Regions from separate parts of the Homo sapiens genome. Here region 2 is linked to region 1. The links come from fine-mapping of genetic effects on gene expression. A gene starts in region 1. The other region holds a variant in brackets. All regions are shown on one strand. Distances are between the middles of the regions.

Region 1 (3,009 bases):
ACGTATCTTTTTCCTCCGGCCATCTTCATGGTTTTCTCTCTGATTTCCACAGTTTGAATACACTGCATGTGTCAGGCAGGGGCTCATATTTATCAAGTTTTGTGTGTGCTCTGAGCTCAGGTCTTTCATTATTTTGGGAAAATTATTGGTAATTTTCTCTTCAAACATTTTTTATGATTTGTTCTTTCTTCTTCTTTTGGGAGTCCTATTACATGCATATGATATCATTTGATATTTTCCCACAGTTCTTGGATGCTTTTTTTAAAAAAAAACTTTTTTTCTTCTTTATTTTCCAACGTGGGTAATTCCTATTTTTCTCAGCTGTGTTGATCCTACTGCTGCCCCATCAGAAAAATTACCTGTTATCAGCGTTCTTCCTTTCTTATAATTTGATGAGTTTCCTCCTCATGCATATTGTTCACCTTTCGTACAAGAGACCTCCACATATTAATCACAGTTAATTTAAATTTCCAGCCTGTTTCAATTTCTCGATCACCTCTGAGTCTAGTCCTGTTAATTGCTTAGTGTTATTTTTTGTTTTTGAAACAGGGTCTTGCTCTGTTGCCCAGGCTGGAGTGCAGCGGCGCGATCTCAGGCTGTTCCCTGAGTTCACACCATCCCCCTCAACCAGCAGATTGCAAAGTGTCCGAGTCGGGCCGTGCAGGAGTCTTTGTGGGGGTTTCATGGACTCCGAATTCTCATTTCTGCTCCATCCCCATCTCATGAATCCAAGGCCCCACTCTGTGCCTCGGCTCTTCGTTTGTGGTGCTGAACGTCATCTACGTCATCTACGCCATCTACGTAATCAACACAATAAAGACGCCTGCCGGGAACGCGGCCCTTCGGCTGAATCCCTTCGGTGGTTCCAAGGCCACTGCCAGAGGATGCGGACGGGTCTCCAGGGCCTCTACTTACCCAGGACTTTGAGGCACATTAGCTTCGCCTAGGCACTCGCTTTTACGAATTCTTATGTTTGGTTTTGTTTTGAGACAGAGTCTCGCTCTGCCGCCCAGGCTGGTTAAAAGATAGGGTCTCAGCCGGGTGCGGTGGCTCACGCCTGTAATCCCAGCACTTTGGGAGGCCGAGGCGGGCGGATCACCTGAGGTCCGGAGTTCGAGACTAGCCTGGGCCAACATGGCGAAACGCTGTCTCTACTAAAAATAACAAAAATCATCCAGGCGTGGTGGCGCGCACCTGCAATCCCAGCTACTCGGGAGGCTGAGGCAGGAGAATCACCTGAACCCAGGAGGCAGACGTTGCAGTGAGCCGAGATCGCGCCACTGCACTCCAGCCTGGGCGACAGAGGGAGACTCCGTCTCAAAAAAAGGAAAAAAAAAAAAAAGAAAAGAAACAAAAGTGATGGGGTCTCGCTCTGTTGCCCAGGCTAGTCTGGAATTCCTGGGCTCAAGCGACCCTCCAGCCTCGGCCTCCCAAAGCGCTGGGAATACAGGCGCGGCTACCGCGCGGTCTCCGGCTGCCGAAACACCGCCCTGCGCGCGGACCGTTCGGCCGCCGGGAGGAACAGCGGCTGCCCGGAGCTCAGAGGCGCGCGCGGCTTTGCGCTCCCCGCGGCGCTCTGAGCCTGCCTCGGCTTGGTTGGCCAGGTGGTCTCTTCAGGACCAACCCCAGTCATTCCCGGCAGGAACCACGCTTGAGGGGCGGCAGTCTGCCCGCGCGAGACGCCCCCGCGGACTACACCGCGGCGGCAAAGCCAAACGCAAAAACTACCTCACCGCGCGCAGGCGCCTCCCCCAGGACCAACATGGCCACGACGCAAGGCCTCGACCTGAGGGGCGTGGCCTGGCCGCCGCCAGCCAACGGGTGTGCGCGCCTGGCCGCAGCCAATAGGAAGGCAGCGCGGGCTCGGGCGCAGGGAGCCGCCGCCGGGGCTGTAGGCGCCAAGGCCATGTCCGACTCGTGGGTCCCGAACTCCGCCTCGGGCCAGGACCCAGGGGGCCGCCGGAGGGCCTGGGCCGAGCTGCTGGGTAGGTGGGCGCGGCAGGCCGCGGGAGTGGGCGGCGTCCGGCCCGGGACGGTTTCGCCGGTTCCCCGATCCCTTCCCGCCAGAGCCTCCGCCGGTCGGATCCCCGGACGCCGCGCCCGGGGGGCTGTGCGGGGTGGGCGCCCGGCTGGGGCGGCGCGGCTGCCTCGGACCCGGCCCCTCCTGCGCCTGGGCGGACGCCCCCAGCCGCCGCCCGCGGGGCGCTCCCTTCTTTCCCGAACGCCGCCCCCGCCGGCCGCCCTGTCAGGCGGGCCTGGGGTGCGCGGCCTGGGGCTCCCCTCAGCGCAGAGGCCGCCCCTCGCCAGCCGTCCCCGGGCTCCCCTGCCTCGGGCCCTCCTGGGCCGTCTTCCCCGGCGTCCGCGGTGGGGCCGTCTCCGTTAGTTTCCCGAGACCTGCGCCCTGGGGAGGAGCCCCGGCCCCTCTTCGGGAGGGTGTCGCTGGTGGGTTTCTCCGCGGCGTCCACCTGCGCGTCGGGCCGGGGACCCCGTGTGTGAATTGTGCTGTGATGGTTTCGAACCGACTTCTCTCCGTAGCGGGAAGGGTCAAGAGGGAAAAATATAATCCTGAAAGGGCACAGAAATTAAAGGAATCAGCTGTGCGCCTCCTGCGAAGCCATCAGGACCTGAATGCCCTTTTGCTTGAGGTAAGAGGAAGCTGGTGTCCGTCTGCGGGCAGATTTAGGTTCGGGGTTTTTGAGTCCAGCCACCGCACAGCTTTCCTAAGAAAACACCCGAGGCGGCGGGCGCGGTGGCCTGGCCCGCAGAGGGGAGGGTCGCCTGAGCCCGGGAGTTCTGGACCAACCTGGGCAACGGGGTGAGACCCCGCCTCTTTTATTAAAAACAAAACAACAACAACAAAAAAACAGGCCGGGCGCCGTGGCTCAGGGCTGTAATCCCAGCTTTTGGGGAGGCCAAGGCGGGTGGATCACTCAGGGTCAGGAGTTCGAGACCAGCCTGGCCAACATAGTGAAACCCGGTCTCTACTGAAAATACAAAAATTAGCTGGGT
Region 2 (2,500 bases), 55 kb after region 1:
GGATTACAGGCATGAGCCACCGTGCTCGGCCTCCTAAAAATGTTTTTAAAAAACTTAGCTGGTCATGGTGATGTGCACCTGCAGTCCCAGCCATCTGAGAGGCTGAGGGGGAGAATTCTGGAGTTCAGGAGGCAGAGTCTGCAGCGAGCTACGATTGCACCACTGCACACACTCCAGCCTGGGCAACAGAACCTGTTTCCAAAAATAAATGAAGGTATGCTACTGTGAATAGCTGTAGAATGTTGTTGTTTTGTTAGTTTCTTTTTTCTTTTTTTTTTTTTTCCTTTTTATAGATAGTTCTCACTCTGTTACTCACTGCAGCCTTGACCTCCTGGGCTCAAGAGATCCTCCTGCCTCAGCCTCCCAAGAGGCTGGGACCACACACATGTGCCACCACACCTGGCTGATTTTTAAATCTTTTGTAGAGACGGGGTGTCACCATGTTGCCTAGGCTGGTGTCAAACTCCTAGGCTCAAGCAATCTGCTGGCCTCAGCCTCCCAAAGTGCTGGGATTACAGGCATGAGCCACCGTGCCCAGGTAATTTTTAAATGAGATGAGGTCTTACTATGTTGCCCAGACTAAAATAGCCGTTTTATACTTAGAAAGAAGGATTACAGTACTAACATCTTTGTGCTAGGGAAATCCTGTAAGAAATCATTCTTGATAAAACTAAGGTTTCTTTCCTGTGGAACTCTCAGCTGCAATTTCATTATAACACAGGGACATGGAGGACTGCGTATGAGATGAAATGACAAACTGGTTTATAAACCTGTCGGTGGATTGTGTGTTCTGTCCTCATTGTATTGAATTGCTTGCTCTCTTTCTCAGTTAACTTACCAAGACTGGTTACACCTGGAGCTGGAAATTCAACCTGAAGCTGATGCTCTTTCAGATACTGAACGGTAAGTGTTGAAAAGAGCTACCCTGGCCAGGCATGATGGCTCACACCTATAATCCCAGCACTTTGGGAGGCTGAGGCAGGAGATCTCTTGAATCCAGGAGTTTGAGGTCAGCCTGGGCAACATGGGGAAACTCCATTTCTACAAAAAATAGAAAAGAAATTAGCCGGACATGCGGCACGTTCCAGTCATCACAGCCACTTGGGAAGCTGAGCAGGAGCATTGCTTGAGCCTGGGAGGTAGAGGCTGCAGCGAGCTGAGATCACACCACTGCACTTTAGCCTGTGCAACGGAGTGAGACCCTATCTCAAAAGAAAAAGGAGCTTCCCTTTAAAATGTTACACGGTTTTCCACATTGCCTTAAAGCCTATGTTTCGTCATTTTATCCTCAATTTAATGTTTGGTTTACCTGTTAATCTTTGAGCACAATTTCAATTTTTTTTTTTTCGGTGGCAAGATTTATTAAAGCAAAAGCGAAAGT[A/T]AAGCTTCCACGCGGTGGCAATTTCTGTTTTTCTTTTTTTTTTTTTTTTTCTGAGACAGAGTCTTGCTCTGTCACCCAGGCTGGAATGCAGTGGCGCGATCTCGGCTCACTGCAACCTCCACCTCCCGGGTTCACGCCATTCTCCTGGCTCAGCCTCCCGAGTAGCTGGGACTACAGGCGCCCGCCACCATACCCAGCTAATTTTTTGTATTTTTGGTAGAGACGGGGTTTCACCGTGTTAACCAGGGTGGTCTCAATCTCCTGACCTCGTGATCCACTTGCCTTGGCCTCCCAAAGTGCTGGCATTACAGGCGTGAGCCACCGCGCCTGGCCAGGTTGCCCAATTTCGGTTGTTATTCCTTTATTTAAGAAACATTTACTGAGCTCCTACCATGTGGCAGACAATTCTAGAGTGTTCTAGAAGCAGGGAGTATAGAGGGGAATAAACAAGCCTGCCCATATGGCACCTTTGTATCAATGAGGGCAGATGTGGCACGTATAAGGCACCCACTTAGACTTCACCCTACCCTGGCTGGGCTATGGCTGCTGTCCGGGAGCTGTACACCTGTGTCCAGGCCCTGGCAACACACAGGTAGATACAGAAGTGGATTAAAGGTAGGAATGAGCCCTGGAGATAACAGACAGGGCCGTGTGAGAGGAAATGACCAGGCAGGAGCAGAGGCTGGTGTGGAGCAGGTGGTGCAGACTTTGAGGAGTGATGCCAGCCTTGACTTGGGGGCACCAAGAAGTGGGTAAATGAAGCAGTGAACCCCCATGAGTCCCAGGGCTGATGACTGAGACCATTTGAGACTATTTGAGAGGCCAGATGTGCTGTTCTGGGCATAGGAGTAGGGAGCCCAGAGGACCGTTGGGTTTAAGGGTGTGGAGTTTAGGGTGGAGGTCAGGGAGAGGGGAATGTGGTCACTGCAGATATGGAGTATCCTGGTGGGTATATGGGCCTCAGGGTGCCTGCCACACCTAGACTCAGGAGAGGGTTGGCAACAGCCACCCTGTGCTCCTCGTCCTTCCGGCCATCAGGGGCCTTCCAGGCACATGCAGCACTGTCGCCTGCACCTGGATCCTGGTATCAGATTCTGGATGAAACCAATGGAAGTAATA

Evidence for each region.
Region 2: its variant is fine-mapped to the expression of FANCA in whole blood (TOPMed, PIP above 0.99).

What each region holds. Positions count from the first base shown.
Region 1 is chr16:89,815,513-89,818,521 of GRCh38, reverse strand. FANCA (FA complementation group A) reads left to right here and starts at 1,875. Exons shown (of 43, transcript NM_000135.4): 1 at 1,875-1,985; 2 at 2,536-2,645. The coding sequence starts at 1,907. RefSeq lists enhancers at 1,212-1,261, 1,647-1,941 and silencers at 1,802-2,091, 2,322-2,371.
Region 2 is chr16:89,760,352-89,762,851 of GRCh38, reverse strand. It overlaps FANCA (FA complementation group A), which reads left to right. Exons shown (of 43, transcript NM_000135.4): 29 at 830-903. Among named protein-coding and RNA genes, the nearest start is that of ZNF276, 40 kb to the right of the region's middle. The variant A/T (reference allele first, on the strand shown) is at 1,382.